Regions from separate parts of the Homo sapiens genome. Here regions 2 and 3 are each linked to region 1. The links come from fine-mapping of genetic effects on gene expression. A gene starts in region 1. Each other region holds a variant in brackets. All regions are shown on one strand. Distances are between the middles of the regions.

What was found. PIP is the estimated chance that this variant, and not a neighbour inherited with it, causes the effect.
Region 2: its variant is fine-mapped to the expression of CYP4F11 in unexposed skin (GTEx, PIP above 0.99).
Region 3: its variant is fine-mapped to the expression of CYP4F11 in left ventricle (GTEx, PIP above 0.99).

The regions. Positions count from the first base shown.
Region 1 is chr19:15,930,785-15,938,965 of GRCh38, forward strand. CYP4F11 (cytochrome P450 family 4 subfamily F member 11) reads right to left here and starts at 3,745. Exons shown (of 12, transcript NM_021187.4): 1 at 3,427-3,745. The coding sequence starts at 3,624.
Region 2 is chr19:15,892,600-15,900,780 of GRCh38, forward strand. CYP4F2 (cytochrome P450 family 4 subfamily F member 2) reads right to left here and starts at 5,475. Exons shown (of 13, transcript NM_001082.5): 1 at 5,427-5,475; 2 at 4,815-5,013; 3 at 2,907-3,051. The coding sequence starts at 5,012. RefSeq lists an enhancer at 1-686. The variant C/CCA (reference allele first, on the strand shown) is at 3,469.
Region 3 is chr19:15,951,355-15,959,535 of GRCh38, forward strand. No RefSeq gene overlaps it. Among named protein-coding and RNA genes, the nearest start is that of OR10H4, 6.4 kb to the left of the region's middle. The variant C/T (reference allele first, on the strand shown) is at 4,748.

The DNA of each region.
Region 1 (8,181 bases):
TCCTACATCCCTTTCACGTCCTGGCTGGTCCCCACCAGCGGCTGTTCCTCCCACACTGGGGACATTCCATTCTCAGCAGCCCCCAGGCGTAGAGGAGTGACTCTTAACTGTCTACAGTAAGCACCTCCTGCAGGCCAGGCTCTGTGCTAGTGTGTCCTATTCACCCTCCACTGCACCGATGGACACGCCCATCAATTTTGCCATTTACAAGTGAGCAGACCAAGGCCATGTCCCCCAAATGGGAGAGCAGGTCTAAGTCGGAGGCCAAGGTCTGCGGAGTCAAGGACAGCTTCTGAAAAGAGAAGGGAGTGGCCAACTTTTATTCAGGCAGGTAACAAGGCCGACTGGGACATGTTAGTGAGGAAGAGCAAGATAGGAGGAAGGTGCCTCCAGAAAAGGAGGCAGCGGGAGACTGCCCACACTTCTCTTCTGGACCCTCTGTGTCCCTGCGTATGGAAAGGGGCTCAGAGCTAATTCCTGTGAGAAAGCAGCAGCACAGAGATGGGCAGACACAAGCAAATGGGCCAGGCAGGGAGTAGTCCCTGGACAGTAGACTCAGGAGGCCTCAAGTCCAGCAGTGGAGAAGGTGCAAATGCCAGGAGATCTTTGCTCTGTGCACCCATACCACTCCCACAGGAGACCCTCAGAGGTGCAGTAACACAGGGAAGACAGGCAGGAAAAAGATCCAAGCAGGCTGGAGTGGGAGGACAGGGAGGTGAGAAAGACTTGGGATGGCACATCAGAGGAATGAGTGAGCGGGGAGAGGAATGAGTGAGCGAGGAGAGGAATGAGTGAGCGAGGAGAGGAATGAGTGAGTGAGGAGAGGAATGAGTGAGCGAGGAGAGGAATGAGTGAGCGAGGAGAGGAATGAGTGAGCGAGGAGAGGAATGAGTGAGCGAGGAGAGGAATGAGTGAGCGAGGAGAGGAATGAGTGAGCGAGGAGAGGAATGAGTGAGTGAGGAGAGGAATGAGTGAGTGAGGAGAGGAATGAGTGAGTGAGGAGAGGAATGAGTGAGTGAGGAGAGGAATGAGTGAGTGAGGAGAGGAATGAGTGAGTGAGGAGAGGAATGAGTGAGTGAGGAGAGGAATGAGTGAGTGAGGAGAGGAATGAGTGAGTGAGGAGAGGAATGAGTGAGTGAGGAGAGGAATGAGTGAGTGAGGAGAGGAATGAGTGAGTGAGGAGAGGAATGAGTGAGTGAGGAGAGGAATGAGTGAGTGAGGAGAGGAATGAGTGAGTGAGGAGAAGAATGAGTGAGTGAGGAGAGGAATGAGTGAGTGAGGAGAAGAATGAGTGAGTGAGGAGAGGAATGAGTGAGTGAGGAGAAGAATGAGTGAGTGAGGAGAGGAATGAGTGAGTGAGGAGAAGAATGAGTGAGTGAGGAGAGGAATGAGTGAGTGAGGAGAGGAATGAGTGAGCGAGGAGAGGAATGAGTGAGCGAGGAGAGGAATGAGTGAGCGGGGAGAGGAATGAGTGAGTGGGGAGAGGAATGAGTGAGTGAGGAGAGGAATGAGTGAGCGAGGAGAGGAATGAGTGAGCGAGGAGAGGAATGAGTGAGCGAGGAGAGGAATGAGTGAGCGGGGAGAGGAATGAGTGAGCGGGGAGAGGAATGAGTGAGTGAGGAGAGGAATGAGTGAGCGAGGAGAGGAATGAGTGAGCGGGGAGAGGAATGAGTGAGCGGGGAGAGGAATGAGTGAGTGAGGAGAGGAATGAGTGAGTGAGGAGAGGAATGAGTGAGTGAGGAGAAGAATGAGTGAGTGAGGAGAAGAATGAGTGAGTGAGGAGAGGAATGAGTGAGTGAGGAGAGGAATGAGTGAGTGAGGAGAGGAATGAGTGAGTGAGGAGAGGAATGAGTGAGTGAGGAGAGGAATGAGTGAGTGAGGAGAGGAATGAGTGAGTGAGGAGAGGAATGAGTGAGTGAGGAGAGGAATGAGTGAGTGAGGAGAGGAATGAGTGAGTGAGGAGAGGAATGAGTGAGTGAGGAGAGGAATGAGTGAGTGAGGAGAGGAATGAGTGAGTGAGGAGAGGAATGAGTGAGTGAGGAGAGGAATGAGTGAGTGAGGAGAGGAATGAGTGAGTGAGGAGAGGAATGAGTGAGTGAGGAGAGGAATGAGTGAGTGAGGAGAGGAATGAGTGAGTGAGGAGAGGAATGAGTGAGTGAGGAGAAGAATGAGTGAGTGAGGAGAGGAATGAGTGAGTGAGGAGAGGAATGAGTGAGTGAGGAGAGGAATGAGTGAGTGAGGAGAGGAATGAGTGAGTGAGGAGAGGAATGAGTGAGTGAGGAGAGGAATGAGTGAGTGAGGAGAAGAATGAGTGAGTGAGGAGAGGAATGAGTGAGCGAGGAGAGGAATGAGTGAGCGGGGAGAGGAATGAGTGAGTGGGGAGAGGAATGAGTGAGTGAGGAGAGGAATGAGTGAGTGAGGAGAGGAATGAGTGAGTGAGGAGAGGAATGAGTGAGCGGGGAGAGGAATGAGTGAGCGAGGAGAGGAATGAGTGAGTGAGGAGAGGAATGAGTGAGTGAGGAGAGGAATGAGTGAGTGAGGAGAAGAATGAGTGAGTGAGGAGAAGAATGAGTGAGTGAGGAGAGGAATGAGTGAGTGAGGAGAGGAATGAGTGAGTGAGGAGAGGAATGAGTGAGTGAGGAGAAGAATGAGTGAGTGAGGAGAGGAATGAGTGAGTGAGGAGAAGAATGAGTGAGTGAGGAGAGGAATGAGTGAGTGAGGAGAAGAATGAGTGAGTGAGGAGAGGAATGAGTGAGTGAGGAGAAGAATGAGTGAGTGAGGAGAGGAATGAGTGAGTGAGGAGAAGAATGAGTGAGTGAGGAGAAGAATGAGTGAGTGAGGAGAGGAATGAGTGAGTGAGGAGAAGAATGAGTGAGTGAGGAGAGGAATGAGTGAGTGAGGAGAAGAATGAGTGAGTGAGGAGAAGAATGAGTGAGTGAGGAGAGGAATGAGTGAGTGAGGAGAAGAATGAGTGAGTGAGGAGAGGAATGAGTGAGTGAGCAGAGGAATGAGTGAGTGAGGAGAAGAATGAGTGAGTGAGGAGAAGAATGAGTGAGTGAGGAGAGGAATGAGTGAGTGAGCAGAGGAATGAGTGAGCGAGAAGAGGAATGAGTGAGTGGGCAGAGGAATGAGTGAGCGGGGAGAGGAATGAGTGAGCGGGGAGAGGAATGAGTGAGCGGGGAGAGGAATGAGTGAGCGGGGAGAGGAATGAGTGAGTGGGCAGAGGAATGAGTGAGTGGGCAGAGGAATGAGTGAGCGGGGAGAGGAATGAGTGAGTGGGCAGAGGAATGAGTGAGCTGCCTCCCTCTCTTCTCTGTGTTCCCACACCCCAGCCACCCTCAAAACCCAGCTCCCTGAGCCCCATTCCTGCCCCTCAGGAACTCCATGCATCCTGAGACCCCAGACCCGTCCTGCTGACAAACTCACCAGGCCCTGGTGTCCCCAAAACCAGTTCTGTTTCGGGGGTTGAGGAAAACACTGGAGGCGGCGGCAGTTGTCATAGAAGGTGTAGGTCCAGGCCAGGACGCGGGCCAGGAGCCAGGAGCCTCCAACCAGCAGCAGAAGCAGCCACGGGGATGCTGCCACGGGCCCGAGGCCCAGCCAGGACAGGCTCAGCTGCGGCATCCTGCAGGGCAGACGGGATGGAGGGTGGGATCCTGAGGCCCAGGGAAGGGCCCAGGAAGCTCCAAGGACAGTGGAAAGGGGCAAGGATGGGCAGTGCTGGAGGCAGATCAGGGAAGGCTCTGAGATGGGTAAACAAGAGCTGAGATCTAAAGTCCAGAAATGCCCAATGAAAACCAGCAGCCAAGTGGCCTCCAGTTACACAGAAAGGGAAAGAGAGAGAGAGGCTGATTAGAATCCAAAAAGGCCCAGCCTGAATCACTGGGAGGTTGCCAGGGGTCCAGTTACCAGGAAATCACCAGTCTCCCAGGCCAGCAGCCTTGACCCACCCCAACCTTGGGCAGTCCCCTCCCCATCCCAGGCCAGGACCCTCCAGCCCTGCCACTGCCAGCCTGGCTCCTATCAGAAGCAGCTTGTCCCACATACCCTCCTCTCCCCCTCTGCTAGGAGGTCTTTGCCTCTGGCCCCTGATTTCCGGAAGGCTGTGGGAGGCGAGGCTGGGCTGGGCTGGTCGAGCCAATCCCCATGGACTGGGTGTGTCTTCCAAGCCTGGGCAACCAACCAAAACCTGGCGTAGGGCCAGCTGGGTGCAGAGGAGCCAGCTCAGGGTGACACAGCATGGGCACAGGATCCGCAGGTCTCAACATCTCACACCTGAGTGGGAGGGGATCTTGAGGAAGAGTCAAAGGTGACTCTGAGCCCCAAAGTTTACAGCCACCTTGCCCTTCCAAGGCAAGAGTGTGGCAGATAAAGTCATGAACTTGAGAGTTCAGGTGGCAAGAGAGTGGGGCCAGGCCAACCATTGTGCCAGATCATGTTCTGAGCTCCTCTCCACATGTGGTCCAGGAGTTCATCATGCACCATTTCTCAGTGCAGACTTAGGAGATTCAGAGACAGAAGCTCCTGGCCTCTGGCTTCACAGTCTGGCAGGAGTTCAAGTCCTGCCTCCAGGCAACCCAGGGCCTGGGTCGAGACATGACTGACAGGAGTAGGAACAAACTATCTAACTGTGCTGGGGATTACCCGGTCAGATTTTAGAGATAAAGAGCCCCGCTGGAGGAGAATACCTGGAGGCTAGGTTCAGCATAGGAGGACAGAGAGGGGAGATGGGAGGTAAGGCTGAGAGGGGCCATGAGTGGATGGGGCCAGGGACAGGAGGGCAGAGATGGGGGACCCTGAGTGGAGTCCTTATTCTGCCCTCCCCTTGCCCTAACTGTGGGTAGTGAGCCCCTCCTGGACTCAGGCTTCCCATCTGGGAAATGGGATGTCAGATAAGGCCTTAGAGGGGGACAGAGGAGGGATCACAGGAAAATGGGCCTTAGATGGGGACAGATGAAAGATTCTGAGGAGGGAGTGAAGGGAAGGGGCTGGCAGCTAGCACTTTAGCTGCTGTGTGTCAGTCTCTGCTCTTTGCAAAAGACAATATGCAAAGTTCTTTTACTGTGTACTGGACTCTAAATAAAGCACACCTACCATGTGCCAGGTACTCTGTATACATGTTGTGTACTGTGTGCCAAGTGCTCTATGAAAAGTGTGTCCACTGTGTGCTGGGCGCTCTACAGAAAATCTTGCTTCTTTGTTCTCGGTCCTCTATATAAAGTGAAATTTGTGCGGAGTAACTTATGTAAAGTGTACCTACTCTGCACCTGCTGCTCTATATAAAACACACCTACTGTGTGTCAGATGTTCTATGTAGAGCATGTTTACTACGTGCCTGGTGATCTATGTCAAGTGCACCTACTGTGTGTCAAGTGCTCTACATAAAGCGTGCCTACTCTGGGTGCTGGGTACTCTTCATAAACTGTGACTCCATGTGTCCGGTACTCTACATAAAGCACACCTACTGTATGCCAGATGCTCTACATAAAGTGTTCTTTCTGTGTGTCAAGTGCTCTACATAAAGCGTGCCTACTCTGGATGCTGGGTACTCTTCATAAACTCTGACTCTGTGTGGCCGGTACTCTACATAATGCACACCTACTGTGTGCCAGATGCTCTATATAAAGTGTTTTTTCTGTGTGTCAAGTGCTCCACATAAAGTAAAACTACTCTATGTAAAGTTCTTGACATAAAGAATGCCTACTGTGTGCAAGGCACTCTCCACAAAGCACTCCTACTATGTGGCAGGGGCTCTAGGTAAAGCATGCCTACTGTGTTCCACCTACTCTAGGTCAAGTGCACCTGCTCATGTCAGATGCTCACCCGCGTCACCATGCCCAAAGCCTTCACACCAACCTCCCCTCGGTTCTCTGAGCCAGAGCCCTGGGATTGTTGGAGAGACCTGAGTGATGGCATCCAGAGAAGGGAATGCATCCATTTAACAAAAGAGCAAACTGAGTCTCAGAGAGGGCAGGCCTCTAGCCCAAGTTACAGAGCTCACAGGAAGCCAGGTTTGTGAGATCCTCAAGCCCAAACCTTTTTCCTCTGCCATGCTGTTCTGCACCCATTCATTAGGGTCAATGCCATATTAATACAGGGACATGTATAAATGGAGGAATCTCAGGCAATGTCATGGTCCCAGAGGGGAAATATCTTGAGGTCTTTGAATCAGCACCTGGCTCCTCCTCCCACACCCCGGATGCTCCACCCAGCAGACCCAGGGCTCCCCTCCTGGCCCTCCTTGTATCCTGTCCAGAATTGCCCTGCCGGGTGGACTTGGGTGAGGGGGTGCTTGAAGGATGGGGCTCCTAGCACAGCTGCTAAGCAGGAGGGCAGGGAAGACAGTGCTCCTGACACTGGCTGGGTGTTGGGGAGCCCCAAAGCCTCCCCCACCCCACCACCACTGCCAGCTCAATCAACCAGGGGATTCAGGCTCCTGGCCCTACAGCCTCAGTGGGGTAGGGTGCATCCCCCAAAATCCCTACTCCCTCTGCAAGGACAGACCTCACCTACTGGCAGTTCCATCCCTGTTAGGCTCAGGGAGCAAAGCCAGAGTTTGATGAACAGGCGGGGTTATAGGGACACAGAAGAAAGCGCTCCCAGTGGCTAGAGGGGTTTGGCACACTGTAGACCACCTGTGTGCCTGGGATGAGCAGGCAGCCTAGAGCAGGAATGGTGGCCACCACCATTTGCCGACATAACCTACACAGCCTGTTTTAAGTCCTTTAAGTATATTAGTCACCTTGTTTTTCATTTTACAAATGAAACATTAAGCCTGGAAGATACTTAAGTGACCACCCACAGTTGCACAGCTGGTGGAGCCGGGCTATACACCCAGACCTCCCACCCAGCCTCACATTGTGCTACCCTCACCACCGGGCCGTGCTCCTTCACGTCTGTAAATGGGCGTTTCAGCAGCACCCACCTCACATGGTTGTCATAATACTTAAAAAGACAATGCATGCAAAATGCACAAGGCAGACTAAAGGTTCAGCAAGTGCAACTCACTGTTCCTGCTGTTGTTGCAGTTGCTGTGTAAGCTGCATATGGGGTTTGACCTGGATCCCACAGGGGGCAGAGACATGGCCTTGCACTGTATTAGAGAAGGGACCTAAAGGTCCAGCCTGTCCTCACCACGTGTTCTCTTTGGCTGTAGATTATGGCTAGGGGAGCAACCTCCTAGACACAGGAGGCTTGGCCTGAATCCAGAAGAGTTATCTGTGGTGAAGTAGTAACAGAAAATTTGAACACCTGTTAGGTGTTAAGGCAGACTCACAGGTGGATTCTTGCAGGGGAGATGCCAGCTGTTCTGGTTCTGGGAACTGAACAATCCGTGGAGCCCAGCCTCCCATCTAGTGAAGAAGTGAGCTCTACACAGCCCAGCTACTGCATCCATGAGAGTCTCTGCTTGAATGTCCCCCAACATGGAGACCTCAGCACACACACACACACACACACACACACACACACACACTCTGCCTTTACAGCAGTGGTCCCCAACCCTTTTGGCACCAGGGACCAGTTTCGTGGAAGACAATTTTTCCACAAGTTGCAGCAGGGGGAGGAGAGGCAAAGATGGTTTCAGGATGATTCAGGTGCATCACATTTATTGTGCACTTTATTTCTATTATTATTACATTGTAATATATTATGAGGTAATTATACAACTCACCGTCATGTAGAATCAGGGAGCCCTGTGCTTGTTTTCCTGCAACTAGATGATCCCATGTGGCGGTGATGGGAGACAGTGACAGATCATCAGGCATTAGATTTTCATAAGGTGCACACAATCTAGATTCCCTGCATGTGCATTTCACAGTAGGGTTTGCACTCCTTTGAGAATCTAATGCTGCTACTGATCTGACTGAGCATTACTGAGCTCAGGCAGTAATGCGAGTGATGTAGAGCGACTCTAAATACCGAAGAAGTTTTGCTCATTTGCCCACCGCTCACCTTCTGCTGTGTGGTACAGTCCCTAACAGGCCACAGACCAGTACCAGTCTGCTGCCTGGAGGTTGGGGGTCCCTGCTTTACAGAATATTAGAGGGTAGATACTCTACGGAAATGAGCCTCAAACTCAACCAGTTCTAAATCAATGAGAAAGGGGATCATTTAAAATGCATCTTCCTCTATGTACACACATGTCAAGGGAGGCAAGATATGAGGCTAAGGGATTGAGGT
Region 2 (8,181 bases), 38 kb before region 1:
AATCAGGGGCCATGGAGGCAGGTGAAAGAGGGACTTTGGGGGTGGGTGGAGGCTCCCAGCAAGAGGTTTGCACTTCTCCCACTCTGAGCCCCACATAGCAGGAAGAGGGCCAAGGGCAGAGGAAGAAGGGAGGATGGGGAGGGGAGGGAAGACCAGACCAGGCTACAGCAGCACAGTACAGCAATGACACTGCCTAACATGGCGTGTAGGAGCTATGTCAGGGTTCCAGCATGCCTTGACATGCCTCCTACACGATCCAACATGTTCCGCAACCCCTGAGCACAGCTCAGCATTCTACAGAATGCTTCACAAGGACCTAGGACACCCTGTCTGTCCCAGCACTCTCTGACATCTTCTGATATGGCATCTTCTGACATGGACCTGGACATGAGACATGACCCTGACATGTGTTCACATGTCCTGACATGGCCACAAAATACATGACAATTCCTAACATGAGATGGTGTGCTCTAACATGCACATGAGATGGTCTAACATGATCTTAAAAGCGTGTTCCACATACAGGCTCTGGGTTGAATATAAATATGGTACCTTTAATGTCACAGACATAGCCAACATGTGAACCAGACTGTTCCTCAGGCATGACCCAAATATACTATAACACATGCCTCAGACAAGACTCAAATAATGTCTCAGACAGTTCACATAGGGACCCTGGGTCCCAGACCTCACACAACCCCCAGACCTCACACAACGCCCAGATGTTTGGACCACCAGGAGAAAACGGCAGTGTCAAACAGCACCTGAGACAAGAACCAAACAGGCCCTCACATGCCCCAAATGTCCTTGGCCACAGATAAGCCCCAAACTTGACCAGCTCTACATGACCCCAGTTGGAATTATATACCAGATGTAACCAGGTATAACATATTTCAGGTGTAACCAGGACCCAGGTGTAAATATACAAGGCAGACCTGGCCATATAACAGCCATTGTAGAGACACGCCCCAGACATGAGCAAACAGCAACAGAGGTTAGACAGGTGGAAGTCCAGGGGCGATGGAGGCAATGGCATCTCCACCACAGCCCCTCCTGTCTGCACATCGGTCACGTGTTCAGCTGGAGGCAGCACAGCAACCCCAGCTGTGGGCAAAGCTTGGCCAGTGCGATGTCTACCTGGAGCAAAGAGCACAGGCTTGATGCACGTGGGGAGAAAGATGTGGATGACTGCCTGCCAGGGCCCCACCCACCAGCAGCCCATATCCCCAAAGGTGCACGCCAGGCTTTGTGTGTATAGGAGACCTTCTTCTGAGCTGTGAATCTGGAGAAAAACACACAGGACCCAATTCATGCTCTCCTAGGCTGTGAGAGAGAAGGATCTGCAGGGAAGAGGTCGAAGCCCTCTCCCTGAGAATTTCAAGCAGCATCTCATCCTCCTGTCAGTGCTGAGCACCCCCTGCCTCCTCACATCCTCCATGCAGGACTCTCCAGTCCTTCAGTTACACAGACAGAAAAGGTCTTTCCCCATGTGGATCCACACACCATGTTCCCTGGGCTCTCATTCATCCCATTTTCCAGATGAAGAGCCTGAGGCTCTGAACAATAAAGTCACTTGCCCACAGTCCCAGACCACGGCAAGCCTGAGGCCTAAGACTAGGTCTGTCTGCACCCATGGCCTGAATCCTTAACCAACAAACTTCTTTGTGCCCCCAAAACAGTAGCTCTGGAAGACCCAGGCCTACCAAGACTGGGCAATCAGAGACACAGGGATTGGGTGAAAAATTGGTCCTGTGATCCAGGCCAGGAGAAGTAAACCATGGGCCATTTCTGGGAACTCTAGGGGAAAGGTGGCCTTTCCCATAAGAACTGAGCTTCTGGGACTCATCGTTGACATCATGAGGAAAAGGCCACCTTGATAGGAAAAGCGACATGGAGAAAGCTAAAGCCAAGAGAGAAAGACAGATTTCCAGTGACCTTGTGTGAGACCTGGATCCAGCCATGCCTGAAGGCCACCCTCCCTGGACTTTAAAGTCAATAGATTATCTTTCTTTGCTTAGACCACACCAGGTTGGGTTTCCACCACTCACAACTGAAAGAGACTTCAATAACCAGAGACAGCTGGGTACCAGCCCAGAGTCACTCAGCATTTTGAGGTCAGAGCCATGGTCTCTGTAGGATGCTGCCCATTCCCCCTGCTCAGCCTCGCCCGTCCAACGATGGGAAGCACAGGGGTCAAGGAAAGGGACCCAAGCTGGGGTGGAGTCTCCTCTTGGAGATCCCCGGGACCTGCAGCAGGAGAGCAACGAACTTAGGGCAGACAAGCTATAGGATGGGGTAAAGGGAATTGACCCACCAGAGGTGGACATCATGGAAGTAGCAGCCCAGATCCCCCACCAGCCACAAGTCCTCCTCATTGTTCTAGGCTTTGGGACAGGCAAGGTGATGCTAGGCCTGGCAAGGGGCCTTGAATACTAACGATGTCCAATTGCCTCACCCTGCACTCTCCTTTCAAACATTCCTACTCATTGTTCCAGACACAGCTCCAGTAACTCCTCCTCTAGGAAGCCTTCCAGCCTGCCCCAGCAGAGACCTTGTTCTTCCCTGGGCTGTGATCCATCTCCCTCTGGCCCTTTCCTGATCCCATGAAGTTGGGGATATCTCTATCCAGGTCCATCTCCTTAAAGTTGGGGGTTCCTCCAGGACTGGGCCTTGGGTTGAGGTCTCTTAGGGTTCCAGGGCAGCCCAGAACACCAGAACAGGGGGTAGATGGCAATAGAGAGAGGAGACGCTGAGATGGAAATTGATGAATACATGAAAGAAAGATGAAGATAGCTGAGAGGGAAGGAAAGGAGAGGCCAGAGTACTGCAGGGCCCACACAGGAGCTTGGGGATAGCGGAAGTGCAGGCCTCAAATGCACTGCCCCACCAGCTGTTCCAGATGGTACCTGAGGCGTTGATGACAGACCGGATGATGTCGGGGTGGCACAAACTGAGGAGGGGGGAGATGGGTCCCATCCAGACCTTAAAGCCCTGGGGGTAGGTGGCCACCAGCTGAGTCAGAACTCTCATGCCCTCCTCTGTGGGGTTGACCTGCAAGCAAGGCAGGGGTCATTACCTTCTGTGATAGTTAATTCTAGGTGTCTACTTGACTGGGCTAAGGGATGCCCAGGTAGTTGGTCAAACATTATTTCTGGGTGTGTCTAATCTATTCATCCTATCTATCTAATTTTTCTATCTATATATCTATCTGCCTACCCATCTATCCATCAATCCATTTTATCTGTGCTTTCATCCATCCATATATTCATCTGTCTGTCTGCTTATCATCTATTAATAGCCATCTATCCGTCTAATCTATCCATCATATATATCTACTCCATCTGTCTACATAATCTATCCATCCTATCTACTCTATCTACCCATCCATCCATCATCCATCCATCCATCCATCCTATCTGTGCATCCGTGTGTCCATGCATCCATATGTCCTATTATTTGTCTATCTAT[C/CCA]TATCCATCCATCCATCCATCCATCCATCCATCCATCCATGCTATCTGTGCATCCATGTGTCCATGCATCCATCTATTCTATTATCTATCTACCTACGTGCCTGTCCATCCATCCATCCATCCATCTATCCATCCTATCTGTGCATCTATCTATCTATCCTATTAGCTATCTATCTATCTATCTATCTATCTATCTATCTATCTATCTACATTCCTCCTGCTCTATCTATCTATCTATCCACATTCCTCCTGCTCTATCTCTCTTGGGTCCATCTCCAAGTCCCAAGGGTGCATCCCAGGGCAGAGGGAGAAGACGCACTGTCCACTCACAGAGGCCCAGTTATCTTGAGAGGAAGGATTTTCTTTTTCTGGGAGTCATTTCAGCCCAGAGGCAGCTATATGGGGAGGTCCTCACAGGGGAGATTTGTGGGGAGCAGTATCGCCTCAGGACATGTCCCTAAGGCTGGTCCCCACATGCCTTCATGTCCTGGCTGATCCACAGAGGCTCCAGTTCCTCCCATGGAGAAGGTTCTGCACATGGGAGACCTTCCCTTTTCAGCAGCCACTAGTGGAGCAGAGGTGACTCTAACTGTCCATCAGGACAATGGCTCCCACCTGGGAGCAGCTTCTGCAGCAGGCTCTGTGCTAGTGTGTCCTGTGCACCCTTCCACTTTATCTGTGGACACATCCATCAATCCTGCCATTTGCAAATGAGCAGACTAAGACCACATTCCCCAAAGAGGAGAGCGGTCTAAGTCAGAGGGCAAGGTCACGGGGAGGAGAAAGGCCAAGGAAAGCTTCTGAAAGGTGAAGTGAGTGGCCAACTTTTATCTGGGTTTGGCAACAGGTCTCATTGATAAGAGGGAGATAAGAAGAAGAATATAAGAGAAAGGTGCCTTCGGGTGTAGTGGAAGTGGGAGACGGCCCATGCCTCTCCTCTGGCCCAGCTGTACCCTCATAACAGGAAATAGTCCAGGCAAGGAGAGGACCCTGGACAGTGGGCATAAGAAGCCTCGAGTCCAGCAATGGAGAATGTGGGAATGCCAGGGACTCGCCTCTCTGTGCAGCCAACCCTCTGCCCAGGAGCCCCGCAGAGGTGCATTAATGTGGGAAGACAGGCAGGAAAAGGATTCAATGCAGGCCTGGAGTGGGAGGACAAGGAAGTGAGAAGGGCTTGCGTAGGCACCTCACAGAAATGAATAAGCAGAGGAATGAGTAAGATGCCTCCTCTGCTTCTCTGCCACCCCAGATCCCAGCCCACCCCTTCACCCCCACTCCCTAAGCCTCGTACCCCTCAGGAAGTCCATCCATCCTGAGACCTAGACCCATCCTGCTGCCACACTCACCATGCCCTGGTGTCCCCAAAACCAGTTCCGTCTTGGGGGTTGTGGGAAACACCGAAGGCGGCGGCAGTTGTCATAGAAGGCGTAGGTCCAGGCCAGGACATGGGCCAGGAGCCAGGAGGCCCCGACCAGCAGGAGGAGCAGCCAAGGGGATGCTGCCACTGGCCAGAGGCCCAGCCAGGACAGGCTCAGCTGGGACATCCTGCAGGGCAGACGGGATGGACGGTGAGATCCTGAGGCCCAGAGAACGGCCCAGGGACCTCCAGGGACAGTGGAGAGGCAGGGACGGGCAGTGCCGGAGGTAGAGCAGGGAGGGCTCAGGGATGGGTAAAAAGGGGCTGAGAGGTAAAGTCCAGAAAGGCCCAACCAAAACCAGCAGCCAAGTGGCCTCCAGTTCCCTAGTAAGCACTTAGAATGGGAAAGAGAGAGAGAGACTGATTAAAGTCCAGAAAGGCCCAGCCTGAATCACTGTGAGGTTGCCAGGGGCTTGGTTTCAGTTACTCGGAAACCACCCATCCTCCAGGCCAGCACCCAGGAGCTGCGTGGGCCTTGGGCAGTGCCCCTCTCCATCCCAGGCCAGGACCCCCCCCAGGCCTGCCACCCCCAGCCTGGCACCTTCTGTCAGGAGCAGTCTGTCCCAGACAACCTCCTCTCTCTGTCTGCTGGGAGGCCTTTGACCCTGGCCCTTGATATAGCAAAGGCTGTGGGAGGGCTGGCTGGGTTGGGCTGGGCCAACCAATCCCTGCAGCCTGGATGTGTCTCCTGAGCCTGGGCAGCCAATCAACACCTGGCGTCAGGCCAGCTGGGTGCAGAGGAATCAGCTCAGGGTCCAGATGGATGGGTAGATGCACAGATAGATAGAGTAGATAGGATGGATACATTAGGTAGATAGATAAAGTAGATATAGATAATGGATATATTAGACAGATGGATAGATAGCTATTAATAGATGATAGATAGATACATAGATAATAGGATAAATAGATGGAATGGATAAACGTACAGCTAAGATGGATTGATGGATGGATGGGTAGGCAAATATATATATAGATGAGAAATTAGATAGATAGGATGAATAGATTAGATAGACACACCCAGAAATAATGTTCCATCTCTGTCCCAGATATGTGGGATCCTCATTTGTGACATGGGAACTAGGGATCTTGGATCACTCCAATCACTCCAGATGCTACAAGGCCAGTGACTTACTCAGTATGATGCTGAGGAACATGACCATCAGAAACAGGATCAGAGTCACTCTCAAGCAAAAAAAAAAAAAAAAAAAAAAAAAAAAAAAAAAAAAACTCCAAGGATTAAATGATTTTTCCCATTGTCCTGGGGAGAAATTAATCCAAGGGAGGTCACAGGAGGGCAAATAATTCCCCATCACCACCACCACCACCATGAGCATACCATCACCCATGGAGTTTTCTGATTTACTCTTTGGCCCATTAAGCGTGAAATTTCTTATGCTAGGTTTCTTTCTGATAAGGGAGAAGAGATTAGTATCTCTACATTTCCTCTCCTCCTGCTACCTAGTCTCTGTATTCTAGGTTAAATTATAATTTATGTTGAGGATTTACAATGGCTGATACACCTAGCTGAGCCTTCTGCACAGAGATACATTGGGAGTGGAGGTTAATTGGGTCAAAGGAGAAATGCCATAAGCCCACACTCCAGCCTATCAGGGTGGATTAAAGGTCTGATTTGCCCAACTCTTGTCACACCTGCTCCCACTGAGAGGTGACAGCATGCTGGCAGTCCTCACAGCCCTCACTCGCTCTCGGCGCCTCCTCTGCCTGGGCTCCCACTTTGGCGGCACTTGAGGAGCCCTTCAGCCCACCGCTGCACTGTGGGAGCCCCTTTCTTTTCTCTTCTTTTCTTTTTTTTTGGATTTTTTTATTATTATTATTATACTTTAAGTTTTAGGGTACATGCGCACAATGTGCAGGTTAGTTACATATGTATACATGTGCCATGCTGGTGCGCTGCACCCACTAACTCGTCATCTAGCATTAGGTATATCTCCCAATGCTATCCCTCCCCCCTCCCCCCACCCCACAACAGTCCCCAGAGTGTGATGTTCCCCTTCCTGTGTCCATATGTTCTCATTGTGTAGGGACATGGATGAAATTGGAAATCATCATTCTCAGTAAACTATCGCAAGAACAAAAAACCAAACACCGCATATTCTCACTTATAGGTGTAGGAGCCCCTTTCTAGGCTGGCCAAGGCCAGAGCCGGCTCCCTCAGCTTGCAGGGAGGTATGGAGGGAGAGGCGCGAGTACGAACCGGGGCTGCGCGCGGCACTTGCGGGCCAGCTAGAGTTCCAGGTGGGCGTAGGCTTGGCAGGCCCCGCACTCGGAGCAGCCGGCCGGCCCTGCCAGCCCCGGGCAATGAGGGGCTTAGCACCCGGGCCAGCGGCTGCTCGGGAAGGTGTACTCGGTCCCCCAGCAGTGCCAGCCCACCGGCGCTGCGCTCGATTTCTCGCCGGGCCTTAGCTGCCTTCCCGCGGGGCAGGGCCCAGGACCTGCAGCCCGCCATGCCTGAGCCCCCGGCCTCCGTAGGTTCCTGTGCAGCCCGAGCCTCCCCGATGAGCGCCGCCCCCTGCTCCAGGGCGCCCAGTCCCATCGACCACCCAAGGGCTGAGGAGTGCGAGCGCACGGCGCGGGACTGGCAGGCAGCTCCACCTGCAGCCCCGGTGCGGGATCCACTGGGTGAAGCCAGCTGGGCTTCTGAGTCTGGTGGGGACGTGGAGAACCTTTGTGTCTAGCTCAAGGATTGTGAACGCACCAATCAGCGCCCTGTCAAAACAGACCACTTGGCTCTACCAATCAGCAGGACATAGGTAGGGCCAGATAAGAGAATAAAAGCAGGCTGCCCGAGCCAGCAGTGGCAACCCGCTCAGGCCCCCTTCCACATTGTGGAAGCTTTGTTCTTTCACTCTTTGCAATAAATCTTGCTGCTGCTCACTCTTTAGGTTCACACTGCTTTTATGAGCTGTAACACTCACCGCGAAAGTCTGCAGCTTCACTCCTGAGCCAGCGAGACCACGAACCCACCAGAAGGAAGAAACTCCGAACACATCTGAACATCAGAAAGAACAAACTCCAGACGCGCCACCTTAAGAGCTGTAACACTCACCGCGAGGGTCCGCGGCTTCATTCTTGAAGTCAGTGAGACCAAGAACCCACCAATTCCGGACACACCATTGTCTGAGTAAGTTTGGGTGCCAGGACTATGAGGTCGTGTGAAGACTTCCAGCCCCATACCTGCAGAACAGTCTGCAGCTCACTCTGCTCTGAACTGCCCCAACTTTGCACAGATATTCTCCATTCCTCGAAATGAAACTGTATCCTTCAAAGCTCAC
Region 3 (8,181 bases), 21 kb after region 1:
TGTGCTTCTCATCGTTGCATGTCTGCTATGGTTGCACCATAGCAACCAGTGAGAGACCCTCTGGGCATATGGTCACAGATGATGAAGTGACATAGTTAATGATGGAAATGGCATTAAATGTGTCCTATGAAAGTGCTACAGAAGCAGAACTTTCTATACAAATAAATCAAAAATTTTTCCAAGAGCCAAGCTGTTGTGAGTGTTAACCACTTTGTTACCTTTTTCTTCCACTTTCTTTTGACTCATGTTGCTATGGTATATCTTTCTCCATCTGTTTACTTTTCACTTATATATGCCTTTATATTTACAGGGTTTTCTTGTTAAAAAAAAAACTTATATCTGAGTCTTATTTTTTTGACCCCCTGTGACAATCTCTGTATTTTAATTGATGCGTTTTAATTAATAATTAACTAAATCGTTTCTTACTATAGTCACTCTGTTATGCTAGCAATTACTAGGTCTTAATCTTCATTCCTACTATTTTTTAGTACCCAATAACCATTCCCACTTCCCCCGGAAGCCCCAACTACCCTTAACAGCCTCTGTTACCCATTCTACTTTCTATCTTCATAAGTTCAATTGTTTTAATTCTTAGCTTCCACAAATAAGTGATACCATGCAAAGTTTGTCTTTCTGTGTCTGGCGTATTTTACTGAATATATTGTCCTCAAGTTCCATCCATGTGGTTACAAATGACAGAATCTCATTCTGAATAGTACTCCATCATGTATATGTACCACATTTTCTTTATCTATTCAACTGTTGATGGACACTTTGATTGCTTCCAAATCTTGGCTATTGTGAATAGTGCTGGAATAAATATAGGACAGCAGGTATCTCTTTGATACACTGATTTCTTTTCTTTGGGGAATATACCCAGCAGTGGGATTACTGGATGTTATGGTAGCTGTTTTTTTCATTTCTTGAGGGACTTCCAAACTGTTCTCCATAGTGGTGGTACTAACTTACATCCCCAACAACAGTGTACAAGGGTTCCCTTTTCTCCTCATCCTCACCAGCATTTGTTATTTCCTATCTTTTGGATAGAAGCCATTTTTACTGGGATAAGATGATTTCTTATTGTAGTTTTGATTTCCATTTCTCTGCTAAATCAATGATGTTCAGGATCTTTTAATATGCCTGTTTGCTTTTTCTATGTCTTCTTCTGAGTAATGTCTGTTCATATCTTTTGCCACTTTAAAAAACATATTTTGTGTCTGTGTGTATATAGTACGTGTATATATTTATGGGTCACTTGAGATGTTTTCATACAGGAATGCAATAAATAATAATCATACCATGCAAATGGGGTATCCACCCCCTCAAGCATGTATCTTTTGTGTTAAAAACAATCCTGCTATACTTTTAGTTATTTTAAAATGTACAATTACATTATTATTGAATATAGTCACCCTGTTGTGCTATCAAATATCAAATGTTATTCATTCTAACTACTTTTTGTACTCATTAACCATCTGCCCCTGCTCCCCCAATCACCCATCACTACCCTTCCCAGCCTCTGGCAACTTCATGAGTTCAACTGTTTTGATTTTTAGATCCCACAAATATTTGAGAACATGTGATGTTTGTATTTCTGTGCCTGGCTTACCAAAACCTATGGAATACAGTGAGAGCAGCAATAAGAGGAACGTTTATAGCTCTCACTGTATCCCATAGGTTTTGATATATTGGGGTTCCATTATCATTTGCTTAATAAAATTTTTCAATTTCCTTCTCAATTTCTTTGTGGACCAACTGGTCATTCTGGAGCATTTTGTTTAATTCCCATGTGTTTGTATAGTTTCCAAATTTTCTTGTATTATTTCTTTCCATTTTAGGCCACTGTGATCAGAGAAGATGCTTGATATTATTTCAGTTTTTTGAATGTTTTCAGACGTGTTTTGTAATCAAACATCTGGTGTTTCCTTGAGAATGATCTATGTGCTGAGGAAAAGAATGTATATTCTGCAGCCATTGGAGGAAATGTCCTGTAAATATCAATTAGGTCCAAGAGACAACAACCTTCTTGTCTCTTTTTATAGTTTTTGTCTTGACATCTATATTGTGTGATATAAATATAGGTACTCCCATGCTTTTTAAACTTCCATTGACATGATGTGTCTTTTTCTATCCCATCATTCTTGGACTAAGTATGTTTTTACAAGTGAAATGTGCTTCTTGAAGGCAACAAATCATTGGGTCTTTTTTATTTTTTAATCCACGGAGCCACTCTATGTCTTTTGATTGAAGAGTTTAGTTTATTTACATTCCATGTTATGATTGATAAGTAAGGACTGTCTTGGAAAGGCTTTATTTCTCTTTCATCTTTGAAGAACATTTTCACTGAATTTACTATTCTAGGGTAAAAGATTTTTCCTTCAGCACTTTAAATATGTCCTGTCACTCTCTCCTGGCCTGCAAGGTTTCTACTGAAAAGTCCACTGCCAGATGTGTTGGAGCTCTATTTTATGTTGTTTCTTTTCTCTTGCTGCTTTTAGGATCCTTTCTTTAACCTTAACCTTTTAGAGTTTGATTATTAAATGCCTTGTGGTAGTCTACTTTGGGTTAAATGTGCTGGGTGTTCTGTAACCTTCTTTTACTTGAATATTGATATCTTTCTTTAGGTCTGAGAAGTTCTTTGTTATTATCCCTTTGAATAAACACTCTACCCCAATCTCTCTCTACACCTTCTCTTTAAGACCAATAACTCTTAGATTTGCCCTTTTGAGGCTATTTTCTATATTCTGTAGGCATGCTTCATTTAAAATTTTTTTTTCTTTTGTCTCCTCTGACTGTGCATTTTCAAATAGCCTTTCTTCAAGCTCACTAATTCTTTCTTGTCCTTGATCAATTCTTCTATTAAAAGACTCGTGTATTCTTCAGTGCGTCAATTTCATTTTTTCAATGCCAGAATTTCTGTTTGATTCTTTTAAATTATTTCAGTCTCTTTGTTAAATTTATCTAATAGAAATCTGAATTTTTTTCTATGTTATCTTGAATTTCTGTGAGTTTTCTGAAAACGGCTATTTAGAATTCTCTGCTGAAAGGTCACGTCTCTGTATCTCCTGGATCGGTCTCTGGTGACTTATTTAGTTCCTTTGGTGAGGTCATGTTTTCCTGGATGGTCTTGATGCTTCTAGATATTCATCTGTGTCCGGTCATTGAAGAATTAGGTGTTTATTGTAATCTTCTCAGTCTGGGTTTGTTTGTACCCATCTTTCTTAGGAAGGCTTCCAGGTATTCAGACTTAGGTGGTATAAAATACGCTGTATCTGCATTAGGGGGCACCCCAAGCCCAATAACACTGTGGTTCTTGCAGACTCATAAAGGTACCACCTTGATGGTCTTAGATGACATTTAAGAGAATTCTCTGGATTACCAGGCAGAGACACTTATTTTTTCCCCCTTACTTTCTCAGAAACAAACATAGTTGCTCTCACTCTGTTCTAAGCCTCCAGGAGTTGGGGAAGCACTGACACAAGCACCTCTGTGGCCATCAGCACTGGAGCTGTGCTGGGTTAGACCTAAAACCAGCAGAGCACTGGATCCCACACAAAACCTCCTATGACCACTACCTGGCTACTGCCTAAGTTCACTCAAGGCCCTGGGACTCCGCAGTCAGCAGGTGGTGAAGCCAGCTGGACTTGTGTCCTTCCCTTCAGGGCAGCGAGTTGCCCCATGCCCTGCGTGGGTCCAGAGTTGCTAGCGACTGGTATTATTAGTACTGTGTGCCAGGGACTGGCATCAAAAACTTTAGAAATCTACCTGGTATTGTATTTATTGTGGCTGAGCTGGCACTCAACCCACGAGATGCAGTCCTTCCTACTAGGGCCATTGACATTTGCCAACATGAGTCACGGAACCTGTTTTAAGTCTTTTAAGTATATTAACCACCTTGTTTTGCATTTTACAAATGAGAAATTAAGTCCGGGAGATATTTAAGTGACCACCCACAGTCACACAGCTGGTGGAGCCAGGCTGTACACCCCCAGACTACCCACCCAGTCTCACATTGTGCCACCCTCACCACCGGGCTGTGCTCCTTCACGTCTATAAATGGGCGTTTCAGCAGCACCCGCCTCACAAGGTCATGGTAATAACTAAAACAGACAATGCATGCAAAATACACAAGGCAGACTAAGGGCTCAGCAAGTGCAACTCACTGTTCCTGCTGTTACTGCGATTGCTGTGTAAGCTGGATATGGGGTCTGATCTGGATCCCACAGGGGGCAGAAACATGGCCTTGCGCTGTCTGAGAGAAGGGCCCTAAAGGTCCAGCCTGTCCTCACCACCTGCTCTCTTTGGCTGTGGGTAATGGCTAGGAGAGCAACCTCCTGGACACAGGGAGCCTTGGCCTGAATCTAGAAGAGTTTTCCATGGAGAACAACAGGAAACCTTGAACTCCTGCCAGATGTTAAGGCAGACTCATAGGTGGATTTTGGGGAAGGACATCAGCTATTCTGGGGCTGGGAACTGGACAACCCATGGAGCCCAGCCTCCCATCCAATGAAGACGTAAGCTCTGCACAGCCCAGCTACGGCATCCCTGACAGTCTCTACTTAGATGCCTCCCAGCATGGAGAGCTCAGCACACACACACGCACAGACACCCTATTCGTTTACAGAATATTAGAAGGTAGATACTGAATGGCAATGGGCCTTATGTAACCAGTCATAAAATTGATGAGGAGGGGGGTTGTTTAAAATGTGTCTTCCTTTACGTGCACACATATCAAGGGAGGCAAATA[C/T]GATGCTAAGAGAGTGAGGTACAGAACACCAGGTATGTCTGCAACATTTTCACAGAAATGAGGTGGAGAGTGCATAAATGCATATGCCTCTATTTGTCATATTTGCATAAATAAACTCTAGCATGAATAACTTTTCAGCTTAACATGTACTTGTTTATGTATGTATAACTATTTATATGTTTACATATTTCACTTGCAACATTTATTCCATCTGTGTGTATAACCAGTAATCCTCCCCGGTCTCCACTCTGTAGGACCCTGCAAGGTGCCTGGTCATTGGACTTTCTACTGCAGGAGTGTGTGGGATGCACCTGAGCCAGAGTTCCCTGCAGCCTAGGAGGCCAAGGAATCCCAGGGCAGTCAATGTCCCTGGTGCTGAAGGAGATGGATCCCCTTCCTTCCCCTGCACCCTCCTCTCACCCTCGCAGCATCCTCCAGACACCTGGACCTGCTGTCAGGATCCAAAAGCAGTGCTTTGGAAGCCTTAGGGAGGTAACCACTGATTCCCATGCTTCTACTCACATTGGCTGCTCAGCAAAAGTAGGAAAGTCCCTACTGCAAAAATGTCAATGTCCCCTCTGGTGCCTGGCAACTGCCAGGGCCAGCCCTACTTCTTGTATCTTCCATGTTTGAAATTTTAACATTTGAACTCACACCCGAGGTTGACCAGAAGACCCAGATAGCTCTGAGCTTTGCACCTGTGACCCACTGGTATGGCATTGCTTTCATGGGAGTAACTGGGATTTGGCAGCCTGATGGGGCTGATGCACTGATTTGGGGGTCACTCCACATGAACCCACACTGAATTCAGGGCTGTGGCATACAGACAGATCAACAGCAACCTTGGGTGTGGGTTTCTATGAACCTGTGTGTCTGACTTTGTATATTCATTTTCTGGTGTCATCTGTAGTCTGCAGTAACTAATAAGGGCAAGGATGGTTTTTATTGAAGAAGACACACCCTTTCTATAATAGAAAATGTCCACCCCCTGACCTGGTGCAGTGGTACACACCTGTAATCCCAGCATTTTGGGAACCTAAGGCTGGCAAGTTGCTTGACCTCAGTAGTTAGAGACTAGCCTGGCCAACATGGCAAAACCCCATCTCTACAAAAAGAAATACAAAAAAAAAAAAAAAAAAAAGCCCAGGCATGGTGGTACAGACATCTAGTCATAACTACTCAGGAAGCTGGGGTGGGTGGATTGCTTGAGCTCAGTAGTTAGAAACTAGCCTGGGCAACATGGTGAAACCCCATCTCTACTAAAAATACAAAAAATTAGCTGGGCATGGTGGCGGGTGCCTGTAATCCTAGCTGCTTGGGAGGCTGAGGCAGGAGAATCACTTGAACCCAGGAGGCAGAGGTTGCAGTGAGCCAAGATCAAGCCACTGCACTCCAGCCTGGGCATCAGAGCAAGACTCCGTCTAAAAAAAAAAGAAAGAAAAAGAAATACACACACACACACACACACACACACACACACACACACACAGCCCACGCATGGTGGTGCATGCCTGTAGTCCCAGCTACTTAGGAGGCTGAGGTGGGTGGATTGCTTGAGCCTGGGAGGTTGGGGCTGCAGAGAGCTGAGATCACACCACTGCACTCCAGCCTGGGTGACAGAGTGAGACTGTCTCAAAAAAAGAAAAGAAAAGGAAAGGTCCACCCCTGTGTAAACTGCCAAATGTTTCCCTTCTTGCTCAGCAATATCTCTGCTGTTATTATCAATGCATGTCATGGGGAGATGACACAGATATTGAGAAGGCACTTTGCCTCTCACAGGTTTTCTCCACAAATTTAGTTCCCCTCCATATTGCTGGGGAAAGTAGCTTCCCCAAGAATGTGCCTGGAGATACCTGTTGCATTCTCTCTCTCTCTTTCTTTCTTTTTTTGATAGGGTCTCACTCTGGCACCCAGGCTGGAGTGCAGTGGCACGATCATGGCTCGTTGCAGACTCAATCTCCCAGGCTCAAGCGATCTTCCCACCTAAGCCTCCCAGGTATTTGGGACTACAGGCACATGTCGCCATGCCTGGCTAATTTTTGTACTTTTGGTAGAAACGGGGTTTCGCCATGTTGCCCAGGCTGGTCTCGAACTCCTGAGCTCAAGTGATCTGCCAACCTCAGCCTCCGAAAGTGCTGGGATTACAGGCGTGAGCCACCACACCCAGCCTCTGGTGCATTTTCCCTTCCAGGTTTCTTGTTACATGAATTTGTAAAGATATTTGTCAGAGATAAAGGTGTGGTTATGACAACGTAGGAGTTGTTCTTACAACTCCTTTCTCAGAGAATGCAGTCAAAGTTGTTCATGTATAACTCATGTATAACTTCAAAATTTAAAGACAGAATATGATGCAGCAAGGAAAAGTGAGCTAATATTTGCAGAGAACCTTTCAGTGATCAAACGCATTGCTGGGAAAATTTCATAGATTGTATCATTTTTGTGTCTTTTAGCCTAGCTACAATCATAACTTTTCTTTTTTCTTTGGTTTTCAGCAGTTTTGACTACTGTGTGTCTAGGGCTTTGTGTGTGTGTATGTATATATTTGTGTTCATGTTTGTCTATATGCACTTTTTAGAAGTTATCCCTTTGGAGGCCAGGTGCGGTGGCTCATGCCTGTAATCCCAACACTTTGGGAGGCCGAGGTGGGTCGATCACTTTAGGTCAGGAGTTGAGATGAGCCTAGCCAACATGGCGAAACCCTGTCTCTAGTAAAAATACAAAAATCAGCCAAGCCTGGTGGCATGTGCCTGTAATTCCAGCTACTCAGGAGGTTGAGGCAGGAGAATCGCTTGAACCCGGGAGGCAGAGGTTGCAGTGAGCCAAGATCATGACATTGCCCTCCAGCCTGGGAGAGAGAGTGAGACTCCATCTCGAAAAAAAAAAAGAAAAAGGAAAAAGAAAGAAAAGAAGTTATCCTTTTGGAATTCTCTGAGCTTCTTGAATCTGTGGTTGATTATCTCTCATACTTCCTAGAGAATTCTCAGAATGTCTGAGTCCCATACCCACTCCTCATGTGATGTGTCCTCAGATAAGTGAACTAACCTCTGAAACTCAGTTTCCTCATCTGTAAAGTGAAAATAATAATATTAATGAGGACATGATGATTGGCAGTTCATAAGCACTGGATAATGTCAGCTATAGATATTGTTAAAGGGTGTGGTCCTTCCTTAGACCGAGCAAAATTGGCACTTAACTGGGCTCTGCACCTCTGGGACCCACACTCTTCAGTGTCTTCTTTGAAGGAGGTTCTCTGGGACCTGAAATCAGCCAGGATGTTCATTGACTCCAGGTGGGGCAGTCCAGGCCAACACTGATTCTCAGTCAGTCCAACCACAGGAAAATAGCTCCCCCCAAAAAAATGTCCAAAGTCCCCTTTGGTGCCTGGAACCTGGCAGAGCAAGTCCTGATCCCCAGTTCTTCCCTTTCAGGCAATC